2 separate regions of the Homo sapiens genome follow, and region 1 is linked to region 2. The links come from fine-mapping of genetic effects on gene expression. Tissue or cell type: whole blood. Region 2 holds a variant in brackets; the other region holds the start of a gene. All regions are shown on one strand. Distances are from middle to middle.

What was found. PIP is the estimated chance that this variant, and not a neighbour inherited with it, causes the effect.
Region 1: it holds the start of FAM43A, and the variant in region 2 is fine-mapped to the expression of FAM43A in whole blood (INTERVAL, PIP above 0.99).

What each region holds. Positions count from the first base shown.
Region 1 is chr3:194,682,097-194,690,200 of GRCh38, reverse strand. FAM43A (family with sequence similarity 43 member A) reads right to left here and starts at 4,318. Exons shown (of 1, transcript NM_153690.5): 1 at 1,164-4,318. The coding sequence starts at 3,374. The coding sequence ends at 2,103. It overlaps LOC124909474, which reads left to right and starts at 3,292. Exons shown (of 3, transcript XM_047449428.1): 1 at 3,292-4,341; 2 at 4,783-4,863. The coding sequence starts at 3,948. RefSeq lists enhancers at 502-621, 2,468-2,971, 2,972-3,477, 4,229-4,588, 7,274-7,323 and silencers at 2,169-2,468, 3,299-3,488.
Region 2 is chr3:195,083,531-195,091,634 of GRCh38, reverse strand. The region is part of intron 3 of XXYLT1 (xyloside xylosyltransferase 1); the gene reads left to right. Among named protein-coding and RNA genes, the nearest start is that of XXYLT1-AS1, 7.0 kb to the left of the region's middle. The variant CG/G (reference allele first, on the strand shown) is at 3,480.

The DNA of each region.
Region 1 (8,104 bases), 400 kb after region 2:
CTGGGTGACAAGAGTGAAACTCCGTCTCAAAAAAAAAAAAAAAATATATATATATATACACACACACACACACACACACACACACACACATATTTTCCACTCGCCCCCTTTGCTTTTCTTTTTTAAAGATAGTTCTATGCCTGAACCATTCCTGTTAATTAGGAAGAAAATCTTTCACCCCTCTTTCCTCTATGGTTCCAGTGAATTCCAGACTCCTTAGGATTTCTGGGTCTAGCTGCTCAGAACATATTTATGATGAAAACAAAGCAAAGTGGCCTCAGGACACCAGGGAAGGCCAGGAGTGAGATCCATTTCTGCAACACAGGAAGAGAGGCCTCAAGGGGCAAAAGGAAAATATAATTTGCAGAAGGCACAGTTTTGGCAGCATCTTATTACAACTTCCAGCTGATCGGGTGTAGCCAAACTAGAGACATCTGTTTGGAGTTTACAACAGAAACAAACACACAGAAAGCATGAAAGCGCTGAAACATGCACACCCATACCGCGCTCTAACAGCTCCTCTCCCCCTCGACCTTCGCGCCATCCCCCAACTGGGTCACACTGGGTTGTAGAAGGGAAGGAAATGGGCTCTGCAGCCTGCCCAGCCACCCACCCACCTGCACCGTGACTCACTCACACCAGGATCGGAACTTGTCAACTTTTCTCTCCTTGGTTTTCCTCCCAGGAAAAACAGAGATGGCCCCACTCCTCAGAGAACTCCTCTTTGGGTTTCTAGTTCATCTTTAAAGCTCCCTGAGCTGTTTGTAAAGGAAAAGATAAGGTAGTCTCCTTACGCTTGATTATTAGCATGGCCCACAGAAGGAGGTAGTAAAATCTCAGCAGATCTGGAAGTCACTCCTCCATAAATAACCTCACAGGTCTGGGAGTGCGATATGGAACTCACCGTGGCCTCTCCAAAAGACCAGAAAAAGATCACACAACTTAATTACTGAAAAATACAGGATAATACAAGAAAAGGCTGGTCCCAGACACAGCACCCAGAGTTGTGGAGGTCCAGGAAGGCCCCAGATGGCGCATAAAGTGGACCTTCCTTCCCTAATTCTCTCCAAGCACAGGAAAGGCCAAAGACTGTCTTATGACACCATCCCAGGGTCAGACACAGCCTCTCCCACCCCAACGCAGCAGTTCCAGACGCTCACCTGTTCTGTTAAATTTTCCTCTTTATTCTCTCCCCACTGGCGTGCAAACAGAACCAGAACAGTGCTACTTTTAAAAAATAACAAAATGTTTTATACACATTTCTGTATATACAACTGAACAACATTTTACATGTTTCTTTTGCACAGCAAAAGATATAAACATTCAGCTCTGAGAACACAGTTATGTACAGAAAAAAGTCAAAAATACTTCACAACAGTGCAAAAATATTTTACACAGTATCATGGAGTGAGATCTTTTGAGCAAGAGGAAGGGTGTGTGTGTTTCTAAAGGAAAACTCCTTTTTAAGATATTGGATGTCTTTAACTGTAAACAAAACGCGACTCTCTTTCATCTCCCCCCACCCCCCAAACAGTTATTTGAAGAATTTGGCAACATTTCAGGGGTCTGAGTCTGAGGTAAACAGCCAGAATTCTTGCACCAAAAAGAACCAAGGGCTAAAGGGTTGCATTAAAGCCTCAAACACCTTGAGAGCAAATTTTTTTTTTTTTTTAATGAGATGTCAGTGACAGCGCAGGGCCGCTCCCAGGGGGTGGGAGGAGGAAGTGAACCCCTCCTCCTCAGGCCCCAGCTGCCCCACAAACAGGAAACTGGCCAGGCACCTACGGCCTGAGACTAGGAACTTCAGCCAACCTTCCCTCACCCGCATCCCAGAGGGGTGCCTCTCTCTCCCTCCTGGCGGGGTTTTCCCCTCTCAAATCTCCCCGCATCCCCACGCGCAACAGAGCCAAAAGTGCTGGGGCGGGAGCGGGGGCCGGGAGGTAGGGGAAAGCGGTCGGGGGAACGCTGGACCTGGGCTCCAAGTGTAGGTCTGGGCCCCAAATGCCCCATTTCCCCCTTCCTGGGGGCGGGCAAGGGACAGGGAGGTTGTCGGGACCACGGATGGGTAGCCACGGTGGAGCGCCGGCGACGCGCGGAGGAGCTCAGCCCGAGTGGGGCTCGTCTGCACTGGCGCCGTCGGCCTGGCGGGACGAGTCCCCGGCGGTGGCGGAGGTGGCGTCAGGGCCCCCGCCCTCGATGGAGCTCTCGCTGCCCGTGCTGTCGCCTGACAGCAGGCGCGTCACCCGCAAGTCGGCCTGCAGGGTGCGCACGTCGTTGCCGAAGCTGAGCTCGCCCAGGTCGCTAATAAGTTGCGACAGCTCAGCCTTCATGTCGGAGGCGCTGCCCAGCAGCAGAGGCGGCGGCCCGGCCCCCGGGCCCAGGGAGCCCCCGCCGCCTCCTAGCGCCTCCCCACGGCCATTCTCCAGAGTATCCAACAAGTCCCCGCACTCAAAGTGCATGGCGACCACTAGCGCACGCTGCGCCTCGGCCTCCTCCTCTGCTGGATCTCCCTCTGCCGCACGGTTCTCCTCCTCCTCCGGGCAGCCCTCGGGTTGCTCCTCTTCCTCTTCCTCCTGCAGCTCCTGCTCCAGCTGTTCGCCGAGCAGGTCCTCGGTGATGGAGCCAAGCTTGGGCGCGCTGCGGCTGCGCTCCACCGGCGGTTTATAGCAGCAGGGTCCGTGTAGGAGCAGCTTGCGCAGCGGCACTAGCGGGATGGTGTGTGCGCCCACCAGCTCCTGCTGCTGGTGACGCGCGTCGTCCCGCCGCTTGAGGCGTTTAAATTCCGCCAGCGCGTTGGCCGACGTCTGGTAGAGCAGCAGGGCCATGGCCTGCGCCTTTTCGGGCTTGGACACCAGCACGGCGTGGCAGCGCAGCATCACGGCCTTGTGCTTCAGCTCGTGCCGGTACACCCAGGCGAAGACCTTGGGCAGCCGCGCGTCGGCCACGCAGTAGGTGACGCGGTGCAGCAGGTAGAGGTGGCCCGGGCGGCGCAGCGCGCGCTCCTCGGCGTGCACCATGCGGATACCCTGCGCACTCACCGTCAGCTTCATCTTGGTGCCCTGACGGCCCGCCTCGCTCTTGCTCCAGATCTTGCCCACAGCAAGGTCGGTGCAGCCGTCGCCGCGCGCCTGGATGGTGGTGGCATTGCCCAGGTAGAGCACGGTGTAAGTTGGGTCCTCGCTAGTGATGTGCAGCTTCTTGCGCTTGGAGCGGAACATGCTGCCCACCCGGCTAAGCGCGCCTTCGGGGCACGCCCGCGCCAGCGAGCTGAGCGCCGAGTAGTGCAGGCTCACAGCGTAGCCCTTGGGCTTGGACGCCTGCCGCGGCGGCGCCTCGGCCAGCAGCTCGAACTTGTGCTTCTTCCACGGCAGCATCTCCGGAGGGCGCCCCGGCGCAGCTGGGCGGCGGCGGCGGCGGAGCGCCGGGTGCGAGGCCCGCTGAGCCACCGGCCCCTGCCAGGCTCGGCCCGGGCAAGATCGAAGAATAAAACTACTGGGAGCGGCCCTGTGGTAGGGAGTTGGGGGGAGGGGAGCAGAGAGAGTGCTTAGGAACCCCGCAGGAGGTGCGGGTAAATTCTCTAAAAAAGAAAATATTCAGCTTCGAGTGTGCAAAAAAGGTTGGTGCGGGGGAGACACGCGCGCACACAGAATTACCCCAGCCTGGGCAAGGGCGAGAGCAAAGAGTCTCAGGCAAGCAACAAAATGCAAGGGAGAAAGAACGAGCGTAGAGTGGAAAATGTCAGGAAAAAAGCTAGAAGCGCGCGTGCAAATAAAGAGAGCCCCAGCAACAGCACCCGGGATGGTGCAAGAATATGCAGGAACTCCTCGGCGAACGTGAGGTGGGTCCCCTAACACACACAACCCTCAGGACTGGGGCCAAAACCCGCGGAAACTCTACAGCGAGTGTGCCTAGGGGCCGGTGCTCCCCACCTCCGAGGGGTGCTGGAGATGGAAAGCCCCCCGTTTGGGCTGGTCTCAAGTCAGCAGCTCGCCCAAAGTGCGGTCGGATGCTGGGTCCGGCTGGCCGCGGCGGGCCCCGCGCAGCAGTCCCGCGGGGACTCACTGCATCTTCGCTCCGCCGGACGCCGGGGACTCGCGCTCGGCCCGCTCAGTGTCCGGGCTGGCCTGGCCGAGACGGCGCTGGGCTCCGAGAACAGGGGACGGGCATGGCCGGGTCCGGGAACCGCCGCTACCTCATTTCTTCCCTCCGAGGCGGTGTCCAGCTCCGCTCCCGGGCTCTCCACGGTCTGCTGCCCGCCTTTGCAGTGCGCCCTCTCCGGTGCTGCGAGCGGCGTCCGGCTCGCCTGCCTCACATCCTTGCCGTCCGGGAGGAAGATCTCGGGTAAATATAGGCCGGCGCGAACCATTCGCCGCGCGGGGACAGGGGAGGAGCAGAGAAGAGGATCTGTTTTGGGCTCCGACTCCGGGCGGATTCCTGGTTTCTTAAAGGGACCGCGTGACAGCCATTGGTCGAGGGAGCGGGGAGACCGGTCCAATCCTCCAATTACATCCCAAATTTACCAGCATCTCTTTTGTCTATGGAAATCACTGGGACCTGGGGTTACCCCGCAGCAAAAAGATTTGAATCCTGACACTCCACCCCCCAGGCTGAATTGCCACTCACTGAATACATGTATGTCTAGATCGAAACTTCTGAGGGAGGTGGCAGAAGATGAGATTACAGATTATAATTTCCTGTACAAAAAGTTTGGGAAAATAGTGGTTTCTTCCTTGTGTGACGGCTTTCTGAGAATGACTGGGTGCTGTTTAATATTATTTTCAGAATTGTATTCCATTAAAGAAAAGAGAGAGGCACAGAAAACACCAAGGCTTATCTCTCACTATCTTGAGCTCGTATTCACAGGTAAGCAGCAGACAGTGTAAAGTGAGGTGAGTGGTAACATGATTGGGGTGACTACTGTAGAATACCGTCAATGAATAAGGCTTTTCCCCGTCCGAACCCCGGCAAGACCCCCTCCTGCTGTCAGGCCTCAGGGTAGAGCAGTTTTCTGAGATACACACAATTTCTAATGCTCGTGTGTCGTTAGGACTTAGTTTACTTTGGCAAGCCGGTCATGCGGTTTCATTCTATCATTGACATATTTTGGATGAGAATTCCTAGTAAAAATTCAAATGACGTTTTTTATTTAAGTGACAAATAATGCCAGGCCACCCTCCAATGGGAGTGATAATTGCATCAGTATTGCTTTTATCATGTGCCAACTGGACAGTGTAGTTGTCTTCTGACCGGCTTGACCCTTAGCCAGTAACTCATTTCTGGGCCCTTGAAACAGCCTGCTTGCCTCTATGGTATGGTCAGTCAAAGCAAAAAGACGTATGGCTGGAGTGGGATCAATGTCCGAATGATCCTGCATCAAACTCCCAGCCTGGTCCTGGAGGAGGACAGTGATCCCTTCCCACCATCCCAGTCCCCTGGGGATCTTTGATGTCTCTGGCTTCCACGCCAGGTCTTCATGCCAGAGTCACTGCAACCATACCTGGAAATTCCCTTGGGATATTCCAACAAAATAAAACTGACCCCTGCCCACCCTCTACCTTTGCCAACTTTTAACCTTCCTTTGAAATCTAACTCAATTTTCTCAGAGTCGTTGATGCTGAGTTTCCATTTAAGTTACTTTGCTGAGTTTCCATTTAAGTTACTTTTCTGACTACCTTTTGGTGCCCGGCCCTGAGCTAGGAGCAGACGGGATTCCTGCCTCCTAGTCCAATGAAGGTTGTAAACTCTACCCAACTCTGGGTTTCCACTGGACTGTGGGTTCTCTGCAAGTACCCTGTATCCCCAATATGGTACAAATAGGCACTCAGTAACTAGAATTAATGAGCAAGATATGCATGTGGACAAGAAGACAGAGTGGGCTAAATGCTATGAGAAAGACTCAAAGCACTATGAGAAGCTGGAGGAAGAAAGCATTCATTGTGACTAGGAAAATCAGAAAAGGCTTCATGGAGGTGGTGACCTTTGAAAGATAAACAGAATTTATCCAAATAGGAAAAGACTGAAGGGCTTTATGGGTATAGAGGGTAGCAAAATTACAGAAGCATGAAAATGCATGCATAAGGCCAGGCGCGGTGGCTCACGCCTGTAATCCCAGCATTTTGGGAGGCTGAGGCGGGTGGATCACTTGAGGTCAGGAGTTCAAGACCAGCCTGGCCAACATGGCAAAACTCTATCTCTACTAAAAATACAAAAATTAGCTGGGCATGGTGGTGCACGCCTGTAATTCCAGCTACTTGGGAAGTTGAGGCAGGAGAATCCCTTGAACCCGGGAGGCGGAGGTTGCAGTAAGCCGAGATCGCGCCACTGCACTCCAGCCTGGATGACACAGTGAGACCGTCTCAAAAAAAAAGAAAGAAAGAAAGAAAGAAAATGCATACACATGTAGTAATTAAGATGGAGCTTGTAACAATCAAAGAATAAACCTTCCTGATTGTGTTTTTTGGCTCTCTTACACTCCAAGGGAAGGAATGGCCTCTTCATGGCTAACTGGCCCCACAGGGTCCTTCAACCAGAGCTATAATGCCTTACTCCTCAGCTGCACTGATGGGTTAATGGAGGGATACCAGACATGCTGTTGGAATGAGGTAGTTAGTACTATAATAAGCCATTTAAGGCAACATTAATTCCTTAAATTTCTAGGCTATCTTGTAGTGGCAATGAAGGAGATAGCACACGCTCTAAAGAACAAAAACTCTGGTAAAAACATATCAAATGAGGCTGTGTTCAGTGACCTTTAGTAGGTCCATAATCTTGAACTCCACAAAAGCAGACATCATGTTTAAGCAGTGATCATTTCCAAATCGCTCAAAGTTCCAAGGCTCAAGAGGGTTTGGGGAAGAGGAAGAGGGAGTAGTAGCAGGAGCTAAGGCTGGTCTCAGCCTCAGCGAGAGGCACCACTTTGCACTTCATGCAGTGGCATGGACCCCAGTGGCCCACAGAGGCAGGGAGGAGTCTACTGGTGGGCCGGGCTGTTCAGCAGCAGCCGGAGTGCCAGTCCCAGCGGCACAGGCCCACAGAGCTGCTCCTGTTGACGAGGCTATGTCACGCCTTGACCGCCTTCCTAATAAGCTTGTTTCCAACCTTGGGAGAACAGAAAGGTTCTAGGCCAGTGTGAACACCCTGGTGTGAGTCATGCCCTGGAGGAGAACCCGCGGTCCCCTTGTGGCCTGGACCTGTGCCAGCCTCTAGGGCCCGCCTCACCTTATGGAGAAGCTGACCACCCCACCTGAAGCACACATCACAATTAAGGCTGCGTTTCTTCAGCTGGGAGAGCTGGCAGCACCATGTGGGAGTCCACATCACAGATCTGAGACAGGGCAACTCCAGAACAGACTGTCAGCAAAGTGGAGCTGGGAAACAGGTTAGAAACTGCAGTGTACTTTTTTAATGACACTGCCCCCATCTACTGGTAGCAGGCAGAAATGCTGCTCGGTGGATGGTTTCTCGTCAAACCAGATAAGCTAGTGGTTGAAACTACACACAACCGGGTCGCAGTTGGAAGGAAATGCTGCCATCAGGAGTCCCAGCCCTAAACTTGACATCCAGGAGTAAGCCTTTCATCTCACAGAGGATTTGGACCAGCTTCCTCCCACCTTACGTCTTACATAATGCTCCTTCCTCTCGCCCCTCCTCCAACATCCTACTCAGTGGACATTGACTTCAGAGATGACACATGACGAATCTGGAATCTTCAATGTCATCTAGTAAATACTTGTGGAGAGTCTCCCATGAATGTCACATAGTTGCTGGGGATATAGCACTAAAGAGGACAGATAGAGAGGTCTTTGCCTGCATGGGATTTATAGCCTCTGGTGGAGGCAGGAGGGCAGACAGTAAACAAAAAACTAATGAAATAGCAGATAGTGAAAAGTCTCTGGAGAAAAGGAGGCAGTGCTAGGAGTGAGAGGTGGCTGGTTTAGACAGCATGGCCAGGGAAGGTGGCTCTGGGCAGAGACAGGAATGAGATGAACCTGCAAAGAGATGGGGGAGAGCATTGCAGCCTGTGCGGCCCAGTACGCAGTCACCAGCCACAGGCTGCTGCTGCCACTTGAACCATAGCTGGCCCAAATTTAGACGCACTACGAGT
Region 2 (8,104 bases):
GAGGGCATCCCTGTCTTGTGCCAGTTTTCAAAGGGAATGCTTCCAGTTTTTGCCCATTCAGTATGATATTGGCTGTGGGTTTGTCATAGATAGCTCTTATTATTTTGAAATACATCCCATCAATACCTAATTTATTGAGAGTTTTTAGCATGAAGGGTTGTTGAATTTTGTCAAAGGCTTTTTCTGCATCTATTGAGATAATCATGTGGTTTTTGTCTTTGGCTCTGTTTACCTGCTGGATTACATTTATTGATTTGCGTATATTGAACCAGCCTTGCATCCCAGGGATGAAGCCCACTTGATCATGGTGAATAAGCTTTTTGATGTGCTGCTGGATTCGTTTTGCCAGTATTTTATTGAGGATTTTTGCATCAATGTTCATCAAGGATATTGGTCTAAAATTCTCTTTTTTTGTTGTGTCTCTGCCTGGCTTTGGTATCAGAATGATGCTGGCCTCATAAAATGAGTTAGGGAGGATTCCCTCTTTTTCTATTGATTGAAATAGTTTCAGAAGGAATGGTACCAGTTCCTCCTTGTACCTCTGGTAGAATTCGGCTGTGAATCCATCTGGTGCTGGACTCTTTTTGATTGGTAAGCTATTGATTATTGCCACAATTTCAGCTCCTGTTATTGGTCTATTCAGAGATTCAACTTCTTCCTGGTTTAGTCTTGGGAGAGTGTATACGTCGAGGAATTTATCCATTTCTTCTAGGTTTTCTAGTTTATTTGTGTAGAGGTGTTTGTAGTATTCTCTGATGGTAGTTTGTATTTCTGTGAGATCGGTGGTGATATCCCCTTTATCATTTTTTATTGCGTCTATTTGATTCTTCTCTCTTTTTTTCTTTATTAGTCTTGCTAGTGGTCTATCAATTTTGTTGATCCTTTCAAAAAACCAGCTCCTGGATTCATTAATTTTTTGAAGGGTTTTTTGTGTCTCTATTTCCTTCAGTTCTGCTCTGATTTTAGTTATTTCTTGCCTTCTGCTAGCTTTTGAATGTGTTTGCTCTTGCTTTTCTAGTTCTTTTAATTGTGATGTTAGGGTGTCAATTTTGGATCTTTCCTGCTTTCTCTTGTGGCATTTAGTGCTATAAATGTCCCTCTACACACTGCTTTGAATGCGTCCCAGAGATTCTGGTATGTTGTGTCTTTGTTCTTGTTGGTTTCAAAGAACATCTTTATTTCTGCCTTCATTTCGTTATGTACCCAGTAGTCATTCAGGAGCAGGTTGTTCAGTTTCCGTGTAGTTGAGTGGTTTTGAGTGAGATTCTTAATCCTGAGTTCTAGTTTGATTGCACTGTGGTCTGAGAGATAGTTTGTTATAATTTCTGTTCTTTTACATTTGCTGAGGAGAGCTTTACTTCCAAGTATGTGGTCAATTTTGGAGTAGGTGTGGTGTGGTGCTGAAAAAAATGTATATTCTGTTGATTTGGGGTGGAGAGTTCTGTAGATGTCTATTAGGTCCGCTTGGTGCAGAGCTGAGTTCAATTCCTGGGTATCCTTGTTGACTTTCTGTCTCCTTGATCTGTCTAATGTTGACAGTGGGGTGTTAAAGTCTCCCATTATTAATGTGTGGGAGTCTAAGTCTCTTTGTAGGTCACTCAGGACTTGCTTTATGAATCTTGGTGCTCCTGTATTGGGTGCATATATATTTAGGATAGTTAGCTCTTCTTGTTGAATTGATCCCTTTACCATTATGTAATGGCCTTCTTTGTCTCTTTTTATCTTTGTTGCTTTAAAGTCTGTTTCATCAGAGACTAGGATTGCAACCCCTGCCTTTTTTTGTTTTCCATTGGCTTGGTAGATCTTCCTCCATCCTTTTATTTTGAGCCTATGTGTGTCTCTGCATGTGAGATGGGTTTCCTGAATACAGCACACTGATGGGTCTTGACTCTTTATCCAATTTGCCAGTCTGTGTCTTTTAATTGGAGCATTTAGTCCATTTACATTTAAAGTTAATATTGTTATGTGTGAATTTGATCCTGTCATTATGATGCTAGCTGGTTATTGTGCTCGTTAGTTGATGCAGTTTCTTCCTAGTCTCGATGGTCTTTACATTTTGGCATGATTTTGCAGCGGCTGGTACCGGTTGTTCCCTTCCATGTTTAGCGCTTCCTTCAGGAGCTCTTTTAGGGCAGGCCTGGTGGTGACAAAATCTCTCAGCATTTGTTTGTCTGTAAAGTATTTTATTTCTCCTTCACTTATGAAGCTTAGTTTGGCTGGATATGAAATTCTGCGTTGAAAATCCTTTTCTTTAAGAATGTTGAATATTGGCCCCCACTCTCTTCTGGCTTGTAGGGTTTCTGCCGAGAGATCCACTGTTAGTCTGATGGGCTTCCCTTTGTGGGTAACCCGACCTTTCTCTCTGGCTGCCCTTAACATTTTTTCCTTCATTTCAACTTTGGTAAATCTGACAATTATGTGTCTTGGAGTTGCTCTTCTCGAGGAGTATCTTTGTGGCGTTCTCTGTATTTCCTGAATCTGAACGTTGGCCTGCCTTGCTAGATTGGGGAAGTTCTCCTGGATAATATCCTGCAGAGTGTTTTCCAACTTGGTTCCATTCTCCCCATCACTTTCAGGTACACCAATCAGACGTAGATTTGGTCTTTTCACATAGTCCCATATTTCCTGGAGGCTTTGCTCATTTCTTTTTATTGTTTTTTCTCTAAACTTCCCTTCTTGCTTCATTTCATTCATTTCATCTTCCATTGCTGATACCCTTTCTTCCAGTTGATTGCATCGGCTCCTGAGGCTTCTGCATTCTTCACGTAGTTCTCGAGCCTTGGTTTTCAGCTCCATCAGCTCCTTTAAGCACTTCTCTGTATTGGTTATTCTAGTTATATATTCTTCTAAATTTTTTTCAAAGTTTTCAACTTCTTTGCCTTTGGTTTGAATGTCCTCCCGTAGCTCAGAGTAATTTGATCGTCTGAAGCCTTCTTCTCTCAGCTCGTCAAAGTCATTCTCCATCCAGCTTTGTTCTGTTGCTGGTGAGGAACTGCGTTCCTTTGGAGGAGGAGAGGTGCTCTGCTTTTTAGAGTTTCCAGTTTTTCTGTTCTGTTTTTTCCCCATCTTTGTGGTTTTATCTACTTTTGGTCTTTGATGATGGTGATGTACAGATGGGTTTTTGGTGTGGATGTCCTTTCTGTTTGTTAGTTTTCCTTCTAACAGACAGGACCCTCAGCTGCAGGTCTGTTGGAGTACCCGGCCCTGTGAGGTGCCCCGCTGGGGGGTGCCTCCCAGTTAGGCTGCTCGGGGGTCAGGGGTCAGGGACCCACTTGAGGAGGCAGTCTGCCCGTTCTCAGATCTCCAGCTGCGTGCTGGGAGAACCACTGCTCTCTTCAAAGCTGTCAGACAGGGACCTTTAAGTCTGCAGAGGTTACTGCTGTCTTTTTGTTTGTCTGTGCCCTGCCCCCAGAGGTGGAGCCTACAGAGGCAGGCAGGCCTCCTTGAGCTGTGGTGGGCTCCACCCAGTTCGAGCTTCC[CG/G]GCTGCTTTGTTTACCTAATCAAGCCTGGGCAATGGCGGGCGCCCCTCCCCCAGCCTCGCTGCCACCTTGCAGTTTGATCTCAGACCGCTGTGCTGGCAATCAGCGAGACTCCGTGGGGTAGGACCCTCCGAGCCAGGTGCGGGATGTAATCTCGTGGTGCGCCGTTTTTTAAGCCCGTTGGAAAAGCGCAGTATTCAGGTGGGAGTGACCCGATTTTCCAGGTGCGTCTGTCACCCCTTTCTTTGACTCCCTTTGAAAGGGAACTCCCTGACCCCTTGCGCTTCCCAAGTGAGGCTTTGCCTCGCCCTGCTTCGGCTCGCGCACGGTGCGCGCACCCACTGACCTGCGCCCACTGTCTGGCACTCCCTAGTGAGATGAACCCGGTACCTCAGATGGAAATGCAGAAATCACCGTCTTCTGCGTCGCTCACGCTGGGAGCTGTACACCAGAGCTGTTCCTATTCGGCCATCTTGGCTCCTCCAGTAGCATCTAATTTTAATGCCCGCTTTGATCTGGCTGTTAAAAATTCCACTCTTTATGTTCATTCAAATTCCAGTTGGCTGTTCTGGGTAAGCCCAGGCCCCAGTGCCCTATCCGGAGAGAGCTGAGAAGTTGCAGGCCCTGCGTGCAGGGAGCCTGACTGCCTTGTCTCTGTGCTCTACCAGCTCCAGGCATACCTGTGTTGATACCTGAATAGAGCGCGCAGTGGGGAGAGACAGGGAGGGTAGCTCAGATGCTTTTCTGCTTTCACAGGGAGCACCCCAAGCACAGCAGATTTTCAAGAGATTTATCTGGAAGGCCTGGAGAAGCAACTCAAGCACAAGGGATCTGAGGAGGAGCCAGGGAGCACATTTCCAGTTTAAAGGGGAAAAATGTCTCCCTGGAGAGTGGGTACAAACGGGAAGAGGGCGGAAGAGGAGCTCCAGGGCCACACGCAGCCTGGCAAGGGCAAGGCCGGCTGTGTCCAGAGGAGCAGGAAAGGCGGGTTTGCTGCAGGCCACCTGGAGAGACGGTGGCGTGTCAACGGGCCACACGGGCAGTGCCTCCCAGCCCCCTTACTGCTCCCCGCAGCCTGCCCTGAGTTTAGAGAAGCTGCACCGAGGCAGGAGGAGGTGACCACAGTGCTGCCACCAAGGCGACCTGGAGCTGGGAAGGCCTAGGAGGCCACTCTCCCTCCTTGTGGTACAGGTGGGAGGTATCGGGGAGGGGCCTGGCCAGTGTCATCATGCAAGTCACTGATCATGATTAGAACAGCCACTGCCACTGACCCCATAGCCAGAATGCTCAAGACAGAAGCCAGGACCCGGAGCTCTTTGTCCCCCTTCATCACCTACATGCATCCGTTCTTAGAGCTAGTCATACACCTGCTAAGTATCTCCTAAACCCTTTGCTTGTCTCCATCCTTGGCACTGCCACCCTCCCCCCCATCACCAAAGCATCCTCCTGCCTGGTCTTGCTGCTTCCAGCCCTTCCTCCTCCATGCCAGTGCCCACCCAGCCAGAGTGACCTTCCTCATACCTCGCTTCAAACCTTTTGTTCCCTTTAGCAGCAAGGTCAGCTTCCCTGACCTTCCTCACAGGGCCCATCCTAAACTGGCCCTGGCTCATAGTCAGGCCTCTGACCCCACAGCCCCTGCCCCTAACCACTGTGTTTGTTGAATACAACTGGATAGACTTCTCCCCTACAGGTCTGTGGTCTCTGCTGAAATGCATTCACATGCATGGAGACAGGGAAACAGCCTCTGTTCCAGGGAAGCAGGGGTAGGGGAGCGGCCGAGACGCCAGACCTGGCTACCTTTGATAAGTTGTTTATTTTCTGAAGCAGACAGTTCTGATAAAGCCGTCGTAATGATGCTCCTTGATCCAACCTAGCACGATAGGAATCTGAGCTGGCCTGTCAGAAGGACAGATTGTTTTGTGGATTTTCTTCCCTTAAAAAAAAAGAAAAATTTAAAAGCAAGGACAGTGCTGTAGAGTGCTGAGCTGTAAGGCTTCGAGGCACACAGCGCGGCCAGCTGTGGGGCAGGCTGGGGGCAAGCTGGGTGTTTGGGGGTGCTGGAAACCAGGTCTGTTTTGCCCAGGTGTGCTCTGTGTGTACAAATGGCCTTTAATGCAGCTGCCCCTGTCCACAGGCCCCAGGCAGTCCTTGAAAGAGAAGCTTGAAAAGTCAAGTTTGGGTCTTCTGCAGCTCGGGCACCACCGAGTCATAGTGAGTGTTGGCCTCCGCAAGGCCTGACAGCACAGAGGACAGAGGTGAGTGGGGGCAGCTGCCTCAGGGGCTAGCCTCGGGGTGGGGGAGGAGGCTAGCCCAGCAAGCTTTTGAGGCACCTCTTTCCTGTGTTGGGTATGAGGTGAGTGCTCAGAGCAGTGGCTCTGTCACCACAGTCGAAGGACAGTGAGGCTAGTGGCGACCTGACGGTTTTGAACCAAACTCTGGGCCAGCCCCTGGTGGAATGGAGTGGTCTCGCCGCATCAGTCTGGAACTCTACTAGGATTGTCACCAGACACGGTTGTGGCTCGCGGCTGCCCACCGCGGCCCGCAGGATGACTGGGCTCTTGGAGCTGTGAGGGAGCACAGGAGCTAAGCTCCTGCTCCTTTCTCTCTGACCGCACTGCTGTGCTTCTCGAGTAGAACTGGGTGGACTCCCCCCTCCCACCGCGGTCTCTGGTGAAATGCGCTGGCATGCTTAGACATGGGGATGGAGGCTCCATTCTAGGGAACCAGGGATGGGAGAGTGGCAGAGATGCCAGACCTGGACACCTTGGGTGAGTTGCGTATTTTCTGAACCAGCTTGGAGCCGGAGCGGCAGGGCCAGGGGTGGGGACCAGGACTGTGACACTGGTACTGAGTCACCATTCCCAAGAGGTTTGGAGAGGTCGGAAGGGGTGTTGAGCCAAAGGGCAAATCCAGATATTCTCTCTCCAAAGCCCGTGCTCCTCTGAACTGTTCTCCAGGGACCTCACTCAGCCCCTTTTGTCCCCAACTTGAACTTTCATATGGCAATCATTTCTTTTCCTACTTGACCTCGTGCAAGGAGAGGATTTAGAGCACTGTAACTCCCATGGGGGTCATCCTTGCTTGGGAGAAGGTTACGTCCACGTGAAGACTCTGCGGCTGCTCAGATGAACCACACACTCTGGAGGTTTTTGGCATTTCGAGGGTCTGGAAGTGGCTGCCTTGCTAGGCCTCCCTTTCCTACCCTCAGCTTCTGCAACTGGCAGGAGCTGCTGTCTTGGGCACCATTAGAGAAGCTCCCCTGCCAAGAGCCAAGGTGTACTGTCCCCAGCATGGAGAATGGTCCTGCCATCAGAGTGGGCTCTCCAGGATGAGGGTGTCTGTGTGATTCACTGTGCTCTTCACATCCTGGACCCTGAAGCCTAATTGAATGAATGAATCCCTGGGGTTGGGTTTCTGGGGCCGATGGAGTCCTGTGATCGTGTGTAGTGGTGGGAGTTTTGCCTAGAACATCCTTGGGTGGTTTAACTCACTAAAATACAGCAAGTGAAGAACAGCAGGCTGCAAGGGCTGACCTAAGTATTTTAGGGAAAGAATTGGACCTCTGAAAAGAGTACGGTTTACTTTGCTCAAAATCTGGGTTGCATGAAATACATTACACTGAGGCTGCCATCTCGCTGGTGGGAAAGGCTGCAGGCAGTCTTGTGGTGCCCTAGCGAGGGTGGACTTTATGTCCTAGCTGGGCAGCCTTGCCCAGGTGGCTTCCATGCTCCATTTTCCTGGGTGATCTCTATAGGTTTTTTTCAGCGAGAAGATTTTGGGTCTAGGGCCAGGGCCCTGACTTGAATCGGGCCTCCTGCCTCTAAGTATCCCTGGGGCAGGGAGCAGCCTAGCTGATCCCTGCCATCTTCCCATCCTCACCCACAGCCTGCTCTGTGGTTGGAACTGGCCTGATGCAATTCAGACCTCATAGCCTGTTTTCTGCTTTTCTGCTTTTCTGCCTTACCAGCCGGACCTTCCCAGAGAACCAAAGCCCGCTAGGAATCCTTTCTGTGATGTTATTTCTCACTCCAGCTCTGAACTTGGTGAAAGCACAGGAGATGAGCTCTTTCTGAGTTAATGCAGCAAAAGGCAGAATGTGTGACCATCAGCACATCACTTTTTTTTTTTTGAGACCGATTTTCACTCACTGTCACCCAGGCTGGAGTGCCGTGGTGCAATCTCGGCTCGCTGCAACCTCTGCCTCCTGGGTTCAAACCATGCTCCTGCCTCAGCACCTTGAGGAGCTGGGACTACGGGTGCCTGCCACCGCGCCTGGATGATTTTTGTATTTTTAGTAGAGATGGAGTTTTGCTGTGTTGGCCGGGCTGGTCTCAAACTCCTGACTGCAAGTGATCTGCTTTCCTCGGCCTCCCAAAGTGCTGGGATTAGCGGCATGAGCCACTGTGCACCGCCAGGCGCAGTAACTCTCTGGGCCTCCATTTCCTCGTCCGTAAAATGGAAATAATACTGACCGTAGGTAGTTGTGAGGAATTGAGATAATGTACATATAGCTGGGTAATGATTCCTGTGAATGGGGAGAGGTGTTCTTCTCCTCCTCCTCGTCATTTTTCTGGGCATGGTGCTTGTCCATAATAGGCTTGAACAAATATTTATTGCCAGCCTGGA